Linked DNA regions of Homo sapiens: regions 1, 3 and 4 are each linked to region 2. The links come from fine-mapping of genetic effects on gene expression. A gene starts in region 2. Each other region holds a variant in brackets. All regions are shown on one strand. Distances are from middle to middle.

Region 1 (4,000 bases), 27 kb after region 2:
CCAAAAAAAAAAAAAAAAAAATTGGCATCTTGATGCCAGCTCAGGCCTTCAGGTGTCTTTTTAAGTCACTTTAATTTAGCACCCTGCCCATAGTACCATTTCTTCCTCCCAGTTGCGTTCTCCTCCATCTCAGTCTCCCCGCTTTGCAATGCCAGATTCTCTACAATTTCTCACCTTGTACCCAGACTGCAATATGTGATCCTAATCCTAATTTTTTTTATTGTTGACAGGATGAAAACTTTGACCTGTCAAAAAGACTGAGTGAGAACGAAATTATATGTAATGCTCTGCAGAGACAGAAAGAGAGATTGGAAGGAGAAAATGATGTAAGTGTGTGAAAGAGGGTATAAAACCCCAAGGTTTTAAGGGGAAGGATCAGGGTGGCCCAGAGATGTAGTGAAAAAAATAAAAAGTTAAGGGCCCTTTCTGGGACAGTGGGTGAAACAGTTGTTCCTAAACGAAGAGTAAATTTAATCTAATTTCCTAATCTACCACAAAACCCTGTCTTTATTCTACAACTGAAATTTGTTTGGCATGGCAATAGTCACCTTGAAAGAAGCCACACTGATGAAGACCTAACTTATTTTTGCTTTTAACTTCACAGCTAATATATGTTGCCTTGGGGGATAGGGGAATAACGTCCTACATAACTTTATGCTAGTGGGGAACTCCTTTTCTTCAGCACAACTTTTTCCTTTTTCTCTGCTGCCAAACCAGGAGCAGAAGTGGTGGTCTGTACCAGTGCTGGACCCATGGTAGGCCCCTAATAAATGCTGTGCATTCATTCATTCATTCATTCATTCATTCATTGGTTCATTCATTCATCCAACCAACATTTATTATTGATTGAAGATGATATGGCAAAAAATAAAGTGGTTGTACTTGAAGTCAAGGTCATTCTCATGTTCTTTCTTTTCTTTTTTTTTTTTTTCTTTTTTTGTTGTTGTTGTTTTTGAGACAAGGTCTCACTCTGTCACCCAGGCTTGGAGTGCAGTGGCACAAGCTTGGCTCACTGCAGCCTTGATCTCCTGGGCTCAAGTGATCGTCCTGCCACAGCCTCCCAAGTAGCTGGGACTATAGGCATATGCCACCATGCCCGGCTAATTTTTTTTTTATTTTTAGTAGAGACAAGGTCTTGCTGTGTTGCCCAAGCTGCTCTCAAACTCCTGGGCTCAAGCAATCCTCCTGCCTCGGCCTCCCAAAGTGCTGGGATTACAGACATGACCCACCACGCCCGGCCCATTCTCATGTTCTTGCTCAGCATCAAATAATAGGTGTCCATGCATTCTGGCTGCTACTCCTGTATCTATACTTCCATCAATTCTTCATCTTTACCCTTTTTTTTTTTTTTTTGAGACGGAGTTTCACTCTTCTTGCCTAGGCTGGAGTGCGATGGCACGATCTCAGCTCACCGCAACCTCCACCTTCCGGGTTCAAGCGATTCCCCTGCCTCAGCCTCCTGAGTAGCTGGGATTACAGGCAATTGCCACCACGCCTGGCTAGTTTTGTATTTTTAGTAGAGACGGGGTTTCTCCATGTTGGTCAGGCTGGTCTCGAACTCCTGACCTGAGGTGATCCACCCGCCTTGGCCTCCCAAAGTGCTGGGATTACAGGCGTGAGCCACTGCACCCGGCCCTTTTTTTTTTTTTTTTTTTTTTTGAGACGGAGTCTCACTCTGTTGCCCAGCCTGGAGTGCAGTGGCATGATCGTGACTCACTACAACCTCCACCTCCTGATCTTTACCCTCTATAATCCTTCTGGCCTATGCCTCCTAGTGATCATTTTTACTATTTTTTTCTTTTTAAAATTGCGGTTAAAACACATAAAATTTGGCTGGGCGCGGTGGCTCACGCCTGTAATCCTAGCACTTTGGGAGGCCAAGGCAGGTGGATCACAAGGTCAGGAGATCGAGACCATCCTGGCTAACACAGTGAAACCCCGTCTCTACTAAAAATA[C/CA]AAAAAAAAAATTAGCGAGCTTGGTGGCAGGCGCCTATAGTCCCAGCTACTCAGGAGGCTGAGGCAGGAAAATGGCGTGAACCCAGGAGGTGGAGCTTGCAGTGAGCCAAGATCGTGCCACTGCACTCCAGCCTGGCTGACAGAGCAAGACTACATCAATAGAATAGAATAGAATAGAATAGAATAGAATAGAATAGAATAGAATAGAATAGAATAGAATAGAATAGAAAATAGAATAGAATAGAATAGAATAGAATTTTACCATCTTAATAATGTAAAAGTGTACAGTTCAGTAGAGTTAAGTGCATCACAGTGCTATGCAACAGATCTCCAGAACTTTTCCATCTTGCAACATTAAAACTTCATACCTACTAAAACATTAATTCTCCCTCACTTTCTACTTTTGATTATATCATTTATGCCAATGTGTTTCATAATTGCAGAAGGCTTTTTGGGTTCTCTTTCTAGTCTTGTTATTCCCATTCTCTCTTTTTTGTTTTGTTTTGCTTTTGTTTTGTTTGTTTGTTTGTTTTTTAGAGTCTTGCTCTGTTATCCAGGCTGGAGTGCAGTGGCACCATCTTGGCTCACTGCAACCTCCACCTCCCAGATTCAAGTGATTCTTGTGCTTCAGCCTCCTGAGTAGCTAGGATTGCAGGTGCGCACCACCACACCCAGCTAATTTTTGTGTTTTTAGTAGAGAGGGGGTTTCACCATGTTGCCCAAGCTGGTGTTGAACTCCTGGGCTCAAGCAATCCGCCCACCTCAGCCTCCCAAAGTGATGGGATTACAGGCATAAGCCACTGTGTCCGGCCTATTCCCATTCTCTTAATTTATACCTTGAGTTTGAAATCCCTGTTTTCCTGAGTTAGTTTGATTGTGGGGGGGGGCAGGTGCACACACAGTTTGCAAAACAAAGGGAAAGATTTGGTATTTGGAAGCTTTGTTAAGAACTGTAGGCCGGGTGCTGTGGCTCACGCCTGTAATCCCAGCACTTTGGGAGGCCGAGGCGGGTGGATCACGAGGTCAGGAGTTCAAGACCAGCCTGGTGAAACCTCATCTCTACTAAAAATACAAAAAAGTAGCCAGGTGTGGTGGTGCATGCCTGTAATCCCAGCTACTCAGGAGGCTGAGGCAGGAGAATCGCTTGAACCCGGGAAGTGGAAGGTTGCAGTGAGCTGAGATCGCACCACTACACTCCAGCCTGGGCGACAGAGCAAGACTCTGTCTCAAAAAAAAAAAAAAAAAAAAAAAAAAAAGAACTGTAGTAAAGCCCTCTTAAGATGATAAGGGAATTTTGCTTATTTTCTTTTTCCTAAGAACTTGAAATGCTGTCTGTGCCACTTTTAGTAATTTTTTTCTCTTTTTCATTACCTCCCTCCCACCCTGTCTTCTTACTCATTCTCTGTGTTGATATATCCATTTGAATGGGATAAGACCTGAAGAAGGAAAAATTATTTTAGGTGAATATTTGCATTGTGTAAGAAATTATTCTAGGAAAGAAACTGAAAAAATATTCTGCTCTCAATAATATACAACACTGGGAGGCCAAGGCAGGAAGGTCACTTGAAGCCAGGAGTTTGAAACCAGCCTGGGCAACAAAGCAAGAGCCTTTCATCTCTACAAAAAATTTAAAAATCAGCCAGGCACGGTGTCGTGTGCCTGTAGTCCCAGCTACTAAGGAGGCTGAGGTGGGAGGGTTGCTTGAGCCCATGAGTTCAAGGCTGCAGTAAGCTATGATCTCACCCCGCACTCCAGCCTGGGTGACCAAGCAAGACCCTGTCTCTAAAAAAAACAAATTTAACAACAACAATAATAATATACAATAGTTTCAACGTTAATATACCTATCAGAATAGTTGCAGTGTTAATATAGCTCCTGCCACTTTCATATATCTACATATTTGTTCCTCCCTGTAGTTGGCATGTATTTAGAGATTTAAAACTTTTTTGTATTAATATAAACAAAATGTAGTAAATATATTTAAATTCAGGTATAGGCTGGGCACAGTGGCTCACACCTGTAATCTCGACACTTTGGGAGGCCA
Region 2 (4,302 bases):
GAGGAAGCAGATTAGGAATGCTCATTCCCGCTGGGTGTGGTGGCTCATGCCTGTAATCCCAGCACTTTGGAAGGCTGAGGCTGGTGGATCACAAGGTCAGGAATTCAAGACCAGCCTGGCCAATATGGTGAAACCCCGTCTTTACTGAAAATACAAAAATTAGCCGGGCGTGGTGGCGGGCGCCTGTAGTCCCAGCTACTCAGGAGGCTGAGGCAGGAGAATCATTTGAACCCGGGAGGTGGAGGTTGCAGTGAGCCCAGATCATGCCACTGCACTCCAGCCTAGGCGACAGGGCAAGACTCTGTCTCGACAAAAAAAAAAAAAAAAAAAGGAATGCTCATTCCCCTGCCTGAGATGGCACAGAAAAATTTCTTTCCACATTTAAACAGTGGAAGAAGGGGCACTTCCAAATTTAATCTTTCATAGACAGCATATACAGCATTTAACATCTTCTGGATGTTAAAGAAAAAAATATTCTGAAACTTGTTAAAATGGCAAGGAAGAATTTATTCAGGACCAAAGGGGAGATTATGCTGCACTCTGAATACAATAATGACAAGTGGGATTTATAGCCAACAAGCAGAGTGAGGGGTCACTGCATGGAAAATTACTAAAAGGAGATTCTTGTTAAACCAACTTAACAGGACTCTTGTTGAAGGCAGGCCAGGGTTATTAGATATTAAGGATGGGGGATTTTCTTTAAATTGACTTAGCAGAATTCTTTTCTTACTGAGTTTATTCTTTTTTTTTTTTTTTTTTTTTTTTTTTGAGACAGGGTCTCGCTCTGTCTCCCAGACTGGAGTGCAGTGGTGTGATCATGGCTTATGGCAGCCTCCACCTCCCAGGCTCAAGTGATCCTACCACCTCAGCCTCCTGAGTAGCTGGGACTACAGGGGCCCACCGCCACACCCGGCTAATTTTTTTATTTTTTGTGGAGACAGGGTCTCCCTATCTTGTCCAGGATGATCTGAAATTTCTGGGCTCAAGAGATCTCCCACCTCGGCCACCCAAAATGTTGGGATTACAGGCGTGAGCTACTGTGCCTGGCCATGAGTTTATTCTCTTTTTTCTTTTTGAGACGGAGTTCAAGGCCAGCCTGGCCAACATGGTGAAACCCCGTCTCTACTAAAAATACAAAAAAATGAGCCGGGCATGGTGGCGGGTGCCTGTAATCCCAGCTACTGGGGAGGCTGAGGCACGAGAATAGCTTGAACTCAGGAGGCAGAGGTTGCACTGAGCCGAGATCGCCCCGCTGCACACCAGCCTGGGCAACAGAGTGAGACCTTGTCTCAAAAAAAATAAAGACTCTTCGTGAAGTAGTGTTAAGTGGACCCAGGAGAAAAATGAAGATGACCTCTTAATGGCCCTTCAAATGTATAAAGCTTTCTCATTCAGGGAAGAAAGACATAAAGATGTAGCCCAGGCGCGATGACTCAGGTCTGTAATCCCAACACTTTGGGAGGCCGAGGCAGCTGGACCTCTTGAGCCCAGGAGTTCAAGACCAGCCTAGGCAACATGGCAAAACCCCATCTCTACTAAAAATACAAAAATTAGCCTGGCGTGGTGGCGGGCGCCGTATGGGCACCGTGGTTGTCCCAGCTACTCAGGAGGCTGAAGTGGGAGGATCACCTGAGCCCGGGAGGTCGGGGCTGCAGTAAGCCGTGTTCGCACCATGGCACTCTAGCCTGGACGACAGAAAAAGAAAAAAGAAATAAAGGTATAAAAGAAAAAAAAGAAAAGTAAACAGCTTCTTCCAGGGGATGAAGTAGGTTTATTTCGGTGAGATTGCTGCTCAGGACTTAGGAGAGCCATCAAAGGCAGAAGACCGCTCCTGGGGCCCGGTCACCTGAACACTACAAGTCCCAGCAAGCGCCGCGCGGGGGCGGGGCTTGCTGACCGTTGTGACGTGTGGGCGGGGCAGGCGGGACGGGCTCTCCCTTGGGTGCTTAGCCCCGCCCCCGTCCCACTCTGCCCTGTTGCTGTCGCGCCGCTGCTGGTTGCTGTCCCTGGTGAGTGCCTCAAGTGGAAAGGGGCAGTTAGGCCCTCGGGGTGCCCACATTCAGACTTGCAGTCCTGAGAAGGGGCCACGGGGGTAGAGGTGTGGCAAGTTTCGGTTCTCACCGCAGTTCACCCTCTGGGGTGATAGTGGGAGTGGTGTTCTGAAGGCCCTGGAGCCCCTCCCGCGGCCCGGGAGGGTTGCGGGGCAGTTTTGTCTTGCGGAGGGCAGCGCTGCAGTGCTGTGTGGCAGGGTGGGAGGCTCCTCGGGAAGAAGTGACACCCCTGGCGGCGGCGAGGGTCTTGAGGCGGCGGCTGCCGCCCCACGGGTCGTGGCGTCCCGTCCCCTCCCGCGGGCCCAGGCTGTGGTGGTTCCGTAATCCCTCGCCTGGATGTCATCGCCGTTGGCTTCGAGGCGGAGGTGGAGCCTTGTTGCGTCACCCTGAGCAAGTTACTTTCTTTTTGGGCCTCAGTGTCCCCCTTTACGAGTAGGTTTGATCCCTGAAGCGCCTTGCCTTTTGCATGCTGCAGCTGTCGGAGAAGACGTTCTAGGCAGGAGGAAAGACGGTGTCGTGACCTGCCTCTACAGTTAATCCATTGCCCCTCCACCACTGACCCAGCTTAGTTTGGGAGCTAATGTTCCCACTCGTATATTATTTCAACCCCACTGGACGTGTTAACTCTTTTCTATCACTTGGATTCTTGCTTCACATGCAAGCCAACAAGTGACCATGGTTGGAGCTGAGTAAAATATGGATAATATAACTTATTCTATTATTGGAAACACCATTGCAAGTAAAGGACTTTATGTGGTAGGTCTTTGTAGCTTGTGGAGAATACATGATTAAGGAATATCCAGATGGCTCAGTTTCCCAGGTATTTTCAAGGGACCTGGAAACTCTATCCTTTGGCAGACATGACAGCTGTGGAATGGAAAGGGCCTTGAAAAAGGTAGTCGATAATCCTGAGTTACCTGGCACTAACAGGTCATATTGTCTTTCGAGTCAGATAGTACATCTGTGGCTCTTTAAAAATTTAATTTGGCTGACTAGGCGCGGTGGCTCACGCCTGTAATCTCAGCACTTTGGGAGGCCCAGGCGGGCAGAATCACCTGAGGTCAGGAGTTCAAGACCAGCTTGGCAAACATAGCAAAACGCTGTCTTTACTAAAAATACAAAAATTAGTGGAGCGTGGTGGCGGGCGCCTGTAATCCCAGCTACTTGGGAGGCTGAGGCAGGAGAATCGCTTGGACCCAGACAGCGGAGGGTGCGGTGAGCCGAGATGGCGCCACTGCACTCCAGCCTGGGCAACAGAGTGAGACTCCGTCTCAAAAAACAAACAAACAAAAATTTAATTTGGCAGTATGTATTGATAGAATGTCATGTATCCTTAATTATTTTTAGATGAAAAGAGAGTTAAATGAACTCTTTCACTTCTTTTTTCCTTCACTTAGGATCATCATTATATCAGGCAAGGTCCTTGAAGATTTTCTAGCCTTAGCCATGCATTTTGCTGATGAGGAAACAGGCCAGAAAAGGGTACTGTGACTTGGCCAAGCTCTCAGAGTGGCAGAACTAAGATAGGAACCCAGCTCCCTTGGCTGTTAGCCTAGTCCCCTTTCCACCACACTTCAAACACTGTCACTGCCCATGTCACAGGGACATGGCATGTTAGAATCACCCCTGTCAAGGGAAAAGTGGATGGTCTCAGTAAAATGGAGATTAGTACACAGCTTTGAGCCTTTCAGAGTTTCCAGTTGCCCGCACCTGATGTCCCAGAACTATTTTTTCCATCTTCCCCTAGAACTGGCGCCAGCACTATGGTGGTGTGGATGTGAGATGAGGGCCTGTTTAGAAAAAGCTGGACAGCAAATTCAAACAATTGTTAATGAGTAGTAATAAAGGCCTCCTGGGGTGTAAAATTTTTGTAAGACACTCTGAAACATTTTCATATTTTAGGTAAGGGTCTAGAATTAACTTGGAAATTTTGGGCTAGAGCAAATGGCTCGATAATTTGAAGACCAGTGATTGTGTCTTTGCTTTTGCTACCTGTTTCAGGGCCATCTACACACACCCATAGTATCCACTGCTGGTATTCTTTAAGGCTGGTTATGTGTAAGCATTTCTGCCATAGCCAGGGAGAAACGGGATTCAAATCAATTCATCCATTTTTGCTAATTGCTAATCGTTTAGAAAGAAAAGTAAGCAGAAGGCCGGGCACAGTGGCTCACGCCTGTAATCCCAGCACTTTGGGAGGCCAAGGTGGGTGGATCACGAGGTCAGGAGTTAGAGACCAACTTGGCCAACA
Region 3 (4,000 bases), 100 kb after region 2:
TCATACTCACAGCTAACTCTGTCATAACCTAGAGCCTCTACAGAGGAAGCCAGAAGAGACTGAAAGTGAATATTATTTACTGGTCCATTAGGACCAGCTAGTTTGAGATAAGGAACATTTTATTTAAAAGGTTTGAATTAGCATAGGCTGTAATCTATGTCTCACAGCTACAAAGACTAGACAGGCCAGGAAACAACCCACATTCTAGGCCCAGCTCTTCCATGAACTTGCAGATGACCTACAAAAATCATTTTATATGTGCTTGCCGTTCTCTGTGTTAATCAGATTATGCTTACTGAACGAGCGAGGTTTTCCTCCAATAAAAATGCAACGTGAAGGCACTTTTCAAAAATAAAAGAATGAGGGAAGAAAGAAAAACTTGGAACTTTTTTTCTATTTTTTGTATAAACAAAATTGCCCAGGTTTATTTGCCACCTCCGCCTCCTCCCTGCCTGCTGCTGTGTGCCCTTCCACATGCAGTCAGGGGAGGGCTTCTCTGGCCTCCTCAGCTGTAATCTCCTGGGAGTAGAGGTCAGTGAAGAGAGCTGGCAGCCAGTAGTGGGCCTCCCCTGGGGCCTGTAAGTCCAGCCACGCCAACCCTTCCTTCAGCAGGTGTTCCTGGAGGGAAAAGGGAAGAAGAGCAGTTTGAGAACAGGGAGGTTCCATAGACAAAGGGTAGGTAAGCAACCCCCACACCTATTTTGGCTTCAGTGAGGTTTTCAAACTAAATCTACTAAGTGCCTTCAAACCTTTACACAACCAACTAAACGAGCTGTTTGGCCTTGGCCTTTGCCTGAATTTGAAAAATGCTACGAAGTCATTTAACTTGTGCTGCTGGGGAAGAGGGGTAAAGCCTAGCATAGTGGAATATAGTGGAAAGAACATAGCTACAGAAATATTTGCTGTGTGGCCTTCAGCAAATCACTGCCTCCATTTTCCCAGAAACTGTTAAACAGAGATCACTGTTTAGCTACCTTTGAATTAAGTTATTCCGGGTAGCAAACATGATTGACCATACTTATGCAAGAATAGACTCAGTTCCTAGAGCTGGAAATAATATGCTCAAAATGGGTGGTTTCTGTCCAATATCATTAGGTAAATAATTATGTTATCCCCATTTTACAGATGAAAGGTTTAGACAGTTGAATTGTTTGGATAAGGAAAAAAGGTACTGAAGCCGGAGTTCTTACATTGCTCCCTCTTCACATCATTCATTCTTCAGTACGATGAAATTTGTATATATAAAGCTAGAGTATATACTATGCAATATAATGCTTAGTGGATAATTAGATATGTAATTAACGTAGTTAATAATTCACTGTACTAACAGTGTTACTTCCAGTACAAACTACATTAATCTCCTGACCAGCAACTCCAGGCTCAGCATGTTCAGGAGAGAGAGTGTCAGTTCCCCAAGTAGCAGGGGCAGCCTGGTATTGTGTGCATGCCAGAGTTAGGAACCTGCCTTCCTAGTTCTACCTTTTTGGTGCCATCTTCAGAGAAGTGCTGGGCTTCCTTCTAGCATGGCAGCAGTAGCCTTCAAGGCAGAAGGCCAGCAAAGCAATGCTGAAGTTCCTGCATTTGTGGAACCCACATCCTCCCAACTGGGGCCTGCCTGTCTTTTCTGGACTGTTCCAAAGTTGCATACCAGCACTTGCCGCGCTCGCTCGGTCTCCCATTTAAGACTGGCTTTGATCTCACTGACAGTCACGTAGCCATTCTTCTGAAGGAAGGAGGAATGGGGATTGAATCAGTTAAGAGTGCACCTTCCCTTAGAACCCAGGATCTGCCCAGGAACAAGAGACTTACCCAGACAGGAGGAAAAGCTGTCAAGCATGAGAGAACACAGAAAATGTTTAAAGGTTCCAGCGGGGAGAGAGAGAAGTGACTTTCAGCATGACAGAGGTAGGTTGGTGGGTTCAATCCTAAAACTGGGGTACCGGCCAGGCACGGCAGCTCATGCCTGTAATCCTAGCACTTTTTGGGAGGCCGAGGTGGGTGGATCACCTGACGTCAGGAGTTCGAGACCAGCCTGGCCAACATGGTGAAACCCCATCTCTACTAAAAATACAAAAATTAGCCAGGCATGGTGGCACACGCCTGTAATCCCAGCTACTCGGGAGGCTGAGGCAGAAGAATCACTGGAACCTGGGAGATGGAGGCTGCAGTGAGCCGGAGATTGCACCACTGCACACCAGCCTGGGTGACAGAGCGAGACTCCATCTCAAAAAACAAAAAAGTGGGGTCCCTTGTACTAACATACTGAGTTAGACTTCTGCAAAGCACTCTAGAGCATGACAAGGGAAGATTCTGGACAATTAATTGATGGGAAGAAATGATGATAATCATAAACTGCTAATAACCTCCATTATTTAAATATTCAGCCCTTGCCCTGCCTCATTCTACTCATCCTCCAATACAGAAAAGCCCCTCCCTTATTTAGTTCTGTTTTACGT[C/T]ATAAAGGAAACTGGGCCGGGTGCGGTGGCTCACCCCTGTAATCCCAGCACTTAGAGAGGCTAAGGTGGGTGGATCACCTGAGGTCGGGAGTTCGAGACCAAACTCAGGCCTGGCCAACATGGAGAAACCCCATCTCTACTAAAAATACAAAATTAGCTGGGCGTGGTGGCACACACCTGTAATCCCAGCTACTCGGGAGGCTGAGGCAGGAGAATCACTTGAACCCGGGAGGCTGACATTGTAGTGAGCTGAGATCACGCCATTGCACTCTGGCCTAGGCAACGAGTGAAACTCCATCTCAAAAATAATAAAACTGAACACATCTAAATACCTGATGGGGATTTGGGGGAAGATGGCATATGCTTAAGGCATGATGAGGGATGGGGGCATGGCAAACAAGATTTTTTAAAATCTGTTTTTGAAGAATCCATAAAGTAGTTTCAAAAGACATCAAAGAGTCTGGCTACCCAAAGAAATCTAGTTAGTTGTCTGCATGTCTGTCTACCTGACTAGACTGTAAGCTCCTTGAGAGCAGGAATTTTATCATCTTTATATGCCCCACAGCCTGGCCCAGTGCTTTGCACTGTAGCTGCTCAATAAATGTCTGCTGAACAAGCACAGGCCTGAGTAGTTCATCCACTGGATAGTCTCAGCAAAAGACCTGCATAATGGGGAGCACGAGCTGAGAACTGCTCCAGACTTGCCTCACAGACTGTCCCTTGCACACACACACACTCGAAGGTGCACCAGTACCTCTGCCAGCTGCAGCACCACGGTGTGATCCATATTGAGCTCAGCTGGAACAGACTGAATGAGGTAAGTGCCGCCCACAGGGATGATGCCGAAGCCAGTGCCAAGTGCCTTTAGTTTCTTGATGGCTCTGATCAGGTCATCTCTGAGGTAAGGAAGAGTTGCTTAACGACCCTTGGCAGAATCAGACCTAACAACACAGTTTCAGCTCTGCCCTGGGCAGGATACTGACAGAAAATTTAGAAGACTGCACAACTGCCAGGCGCAATGGCTCATACCCATAATCGCAACACTTTTGGGATGCCCACATTGAGAAGACTGCTTGAGCCCAGGGGTTAGAGACCAGCCTGGGCAACACAGCAAGACCTTATCTTTACTAAAAATAAAAAATTAGCAGGGCATGGTGGCAATCGCCTATAATCCTTGGGAGGCTGAGGCAGGAGGATCACTTGAGCCCAGGAGTTCAAGGCTGCAGTGAGCTGTGATTGTGCACCACTGTACTCCAGCCTGGGTGACAGAGCGAGACCCTGCCTCTAAAATAAAAGGCTGCACAACACTCAACTACGTCAGTAAAAAGACAGGGTCAAGGAGCAATAAGTGATGCTTGGACAATCATGGGAGATACACAGGAGTCAGGCTGTCTGCTCAGCGAACCACTCATTCCAACATCCAGACAGCGGTCAAAGATACACCTGCAGATGCCCATCAGGAAATGTGAATGAGTGAGCTGAAGAGGCAATGGGGGTAGTGTCACCTGTGGCAAACTAGAGAATGCTTATCTATTTTAAAGGGG
Region 4 (4,000 bases), 110 kb after region 2:
GTAGCAGTAAGCTGTGATCATGCCACTGTACTCCAGCCCGGGCAAAAGTGAGACCCTATCTCTTATTTTTTGTTTGTTTTTTGTTTTTTTTTTTCCTGTATGATATGGAGATCATACAGATTTCTAAGCTAGCCTAGACATGAGGAATAGGGAGAAAAGAGTTCCATCTGAATTTTAAAGACCTCTTTCTGTACTCCAAGGGATTGGAAGACAAGACCTACTGACTGACATCCTGGGCGAACTTGCCCCTTCCCTTCAACACCTGTTGATGTAGTTCCTCCAAAGTTATCAGACCTGTTTGGAGACAGGGAACAGAAATCAGAAAAAGAGATTACCCACTTTAAATAAGTTGACAGTCATTACAATTCCAGTGGCCTACAAGTAGCAAATAACATTCTAGTTCCTAATTTTTTTTTAACACTCTCCTTATGAAATAACTGACCATAATATGAGAAATGGATTCTGAGACCTTGCTAGGCCTGTCAACAGAGAGCTACGAAAATCTAAAAACAAAAGCAGTATCATCTTTGAAAAACTATAAATGTCCTCTTGACATCAAGGCCGTGTCTATTTATAGTTGATGATGATTTGTAAATGGTTTTAAGTTTTCTTTCTGTAACTTCAATCCACACCATTTAACGTGCTTACTAAGAAAGATGGCATCACCAGATGACAAATTTTAAGGTCACATTTTAGGGAACACAGACTCAGTTGGCATTCCCATACGTCGGAGAGACAGTGCAGGACTATAGTTACTAATGAGAAAATCACTCCAGACACATCAGACATCAGGGGAAAAGGCCTACTTCCTACCTCTCTACTATTTTCTGTACTGACTAGGGACTAGACCTTCCTGGCCAAAGATCTTTGGAGAACAGAGACAATCGTTCAGGTAATTCTATTTACCCTTGGCCATGGAGACTTGCCATGGATTCAACTGCATGAAACAGCTAAGATGTCTCTCAAGTCCTTAGAGGCCTGTAGACTGCAGGATGGAAACGATAATCTTTTACGGTTTTCTCCCTCTCAGAGAAGTCCAGAGTCCAGTTCACAGGACCTAGCCACCCTCACCTCCATTCCGATGCTTCAGCGCCAGGCACACTTCGATAATTTGGACACCTAGTTCGTAATAGAAGTCCCCCACGCCCAGCATCTCAGACCAAAATCCTTTTCCAGCTACAAGACAGAAAAACAAAATCTCGGTTATTGATTAATTTACATCCCTTCTTTTCTTTCAAACCTGCATTAAAACATCTATCATATGGGAAGTCTTCCCTGCATGGCATGAAGTTCTTCTGCTCCATCTGCTACTCAGGAAACAATCGGACTCACGGTAACTCCTGCTGAAGAACAGGGTCAGACGGCTCCAGAGGGCAGGCAATCTAAAAGTCATTTCTGGCCGGGCGCAGTGGCTCACGCCTGTAATTCCAACACTTTGGGACATCGAGCTAGGTGGATCGCTCGAGACCAAGAGTTCAAGACCAGCCTGGCCAACATGGCAAAACCCCATCTCTAATAATAATAATAATAAATTAGCCAGGAGTGGTGGCGTGC[G/A]CCTGTAATCCCAGCTACTTGGGAGGCTGAGGCAGGAGAATTGCTGGAACCCAGGAGGCAGAAGTTGCAGTGAGCCAAGATCGCGCCACCATACTCCAGCCTGGGCAATAAGAGCACAACTCTCTCTCAAAAAAAAAAAATACAGCCGGGGACAGTGGGTCACGCCTGTAATTCCAGCACTTTGGGAAGCCAAAGCTGGTGGATCACAAGGTCAAGAGATAGAGACCATCCTGGCCAATACAGTGAAACCCTGTCTCTACTAAAAATACAAAAATTAGCCGGGCGTGGTGGCGCGTGCCTGTAATCTCAGCTACTCAGGAGACTGAGGCAAGAGAATCGCTTGAACCCGGGAGGCAGAGGTTGCAGTGAGCCGGGATTACGCCACTGCACTCCAGCCTGGCAACAGAGTGAGACTCCGTTTCAAAAAAAATAAATAAATAAAAATAAATAAATAAAAATTTAAAAAATAAAACAAAAGTCATTTCTATTTGGCTAATTCTGGCTCAGGATACTGAAAAAACGAGTTTCCATTCACAAAGCATGCAGTGAAATATAATGGGAAATATGGTCTAGACAAGACTAAGAGAAAGAATATGCAGACTCAGCATTCAAAAATCCACTGAATGTTCTGTGAGTTACCAGGAGTGTAGAAATAAAAAATAAATAAATAAACAATCCACTGACGACAATATTCTATTCAGTGAAAAATGCAGGTTGGGCGCAGTGGCTCACGCCTGTAATCCCAGCACTTTGGGAGGCAGAGGCAGGCGGATCACCTGAGGTCAGGAGTTCGAGAACAGCCTGACCAACATGGAGACACCCCGTCTCTACTAAAAATACAAAATTGGCCAGGCATGGTGGTGGGCACCTGTAATCCCAACTACTTGGGAGGCTGAGGCAGGAGAATCGCTTGAACCTGGGTGGCGAAGGTTGCAGTGACCCAAGATCACGCCATTGCACTCCAGCCTGGGAATCAAGAGCAAAACTCCATCTCAAAAAAAAAAAAAAAAAGAAAACAAAAATGTAGGTTATAGAGCAGTAGTAATTATATTATAATCCCATATATGTTTACAAAGTTGGGGCCACGCCAGGAGCAGTGGCTCACGCCTGTAATCCCAGCACTTTGGGAGGTTGAGAGGGGCAGATCACGAGGTCAGGAGATCAAGACCATCCTGGCTAACATGCTGAAACCCTGTCTCTACTAATCATACAAAAAATTAGCCGGGCATGGTGGCACATGCCTATAGTCCCAGCTAGCTACTCAGGAGGCTGAGGCAGGAGAATCACTTGAACCCAGGAGGCGGAGGTTGCAGTTAACCAGGATCGCGCCATTGCACTCCAGCATGGGCAACAAGAGCGAGACTCCGTCTCAAAAAAAAAAAAAAGCAGTAAATTATATAGTGCAATGCCTGGCACACAAATAAATATCGTTTATGATTGTTATTCATTGTTTGAGATAAAATCAGTCATCTGTAGCCGGGCGCGGTAGCTCACACCTGTAATCCCAGTACTTTGGGAGGCCGAGGCGGGTGGATCACGAGGTCAGGAGTTCAAGACCAACCCGGCCAAGATGGTGAAACTCCGTCTCTACTAAAAATACAAAAAATTAGCCGGGCATGGTGGCACATGCCTATAGTCCCAGCTAGCTACTCAGGAGGCTGAGGCAGGAGAATCACTTGAACCCAGGAGAAGGAGGTTGCAGTGAGCCAAGAGTGTCACACCACAGTACTCCAGCATGGGCAACAGAGTGAGACTCTGTCTCAAGAAAAAAAAAAAAAAAAACACTGGGGCCAGGCACGGTGACTCATGCCTCTAGTCCCAGCTCCACTTGGGAGGTTGAGGCAGGAAAGTAACTTGAGCCCTGGAGTTGAAGGCTGCAGTGGGCTGATTGCACCAATGCACTCCAGCCTAGGTGACAGAAACCTCAATGCTAAAAAATAATAAATTAGTAATTTCTTTTTTTTTTTTTTTTGGGGGGATGGAGTCTCGCTCTGTTGCCTGGGCTGTTGTGCAGGGGCGCGACCTTGGCTCACTGCAACCTTCACCTCCCGGGTTCAAGTGATTTTCCTGCTTCAGCCTCCCGAGTAGCTGGGATTACAGGCATGTGCCACCATACCTGGCTAATTTTTTGTATTTTTAGTAGAGACAGGGTTTCACCGTGTTAGCCAGGATGGCCTCATCTCCTGACCTTATGATCTGCCCGCCTCAGCCTCACAAAGTGCTGGGATTACAGGCGTGAGCCACCGCGCCCGGTGAATAATTTTTTTTAAAGTTTATAAGTATGAGGAAGGGCTCAGTGCAGTGGCTCACATCTATAATCCCAGCACTCTGGAAGGCCAAGAAAGGCCGATCACTTGATCCCAAGAGTTGAAGACCAAACTGGGCAACATGGTGAAACCTCCTCTCTACAAAAAATACAAAAATTAGCCAGATTTGGTGGTGCAGG

Direction of the effects. Positions count from the first base shown, and alleles are read on the strand shown. Sizes are in standard deviations (SD) of each study's normalised expression. Not every link is listed here.
As copies of T replace C in region 3, the expression in cerebral cortex of the gene that starts at base 1,966 in region 2 goes down (large effect, 0.76 SD a copy in GTEx).

Evidence for each region.
Region 1: its variant is fine-mapped to the expression of CALCOCO2 in whole blood (INTERVAL, PIP 0.92).
Region 3: its variant is fine-mapped to the expression of CALCOCO2 in cerebral cortex (GTEx, PIP above 0.99). The same link has a PIP of 0.9 or more in subcutaneous fat.
Region 4: its variant is fine-mapped to the expression of CALCOCO2 in whole blood (INTERVAL, PIP 0.96).

Annotation. Positions count from the first base shown.
Region 1 is chr17:48,855,862-48,859,861 of GRCh38, forward strand. It overlaps CALCOCO2 (calcium binding and coiled-coil domain 2), which reads left to right. Exons shown (of 13, transcript NM_005831.5): 10 at 231-326. Among named protein-coding and RNA genes, the nearest start is that of CALCOCO2, 27 kb to the left of the region's middle. The variant C/CA (reference allele first, on the strand shown) is at 1,957.
Region 2 is chr17:48,829,070-48,833,371 of GRCh38, forward strand. It overlaps CALCOCO2 (calcium binding and coiled-coil domain 2), which reads left to right and starts at 1,966. Exons shown (of 13, transcript NM_005831.5): 1 at 1,966-2,009. RefSeq lists an enhancer at 1,970-2,851 and a silencer at 2,222-2,381.
Region 3 is chr17:48,929,995-48,933,994 of GRCh38, forward strand. SNF8 (SNF8 subunit of ESCRT-II) reads right to left here. Exons shown (of 8, transcript NM_007241.4): 6 at 3,211-3,352; 7 at 1,649-1,723; 8 at 1-618. The coding sequence ends at 481. Among named protein-coding and RNA genes, the nearest start is that of SNF8, 13 kb to the right of the region's middle. The variant C/T (reference allele first, on the strand shown) is at 2,457.
Region 4 is chr17:48,935,949-48,939,948 of GRCh38, forward strand. SNF8 (SNF8 subunit of ESCRT-II) reads right to left here. Exons shown (of 8, transcript NM_007241.4): 4 at 1,072-1,176; 5 at 222-294. Among named protein-coding and RNA genes, the nearest start is that of SNF8, 6.9 kb to the right of the region's middle. The variant G/A (reference allele first, on the strand shown) is at 1,555.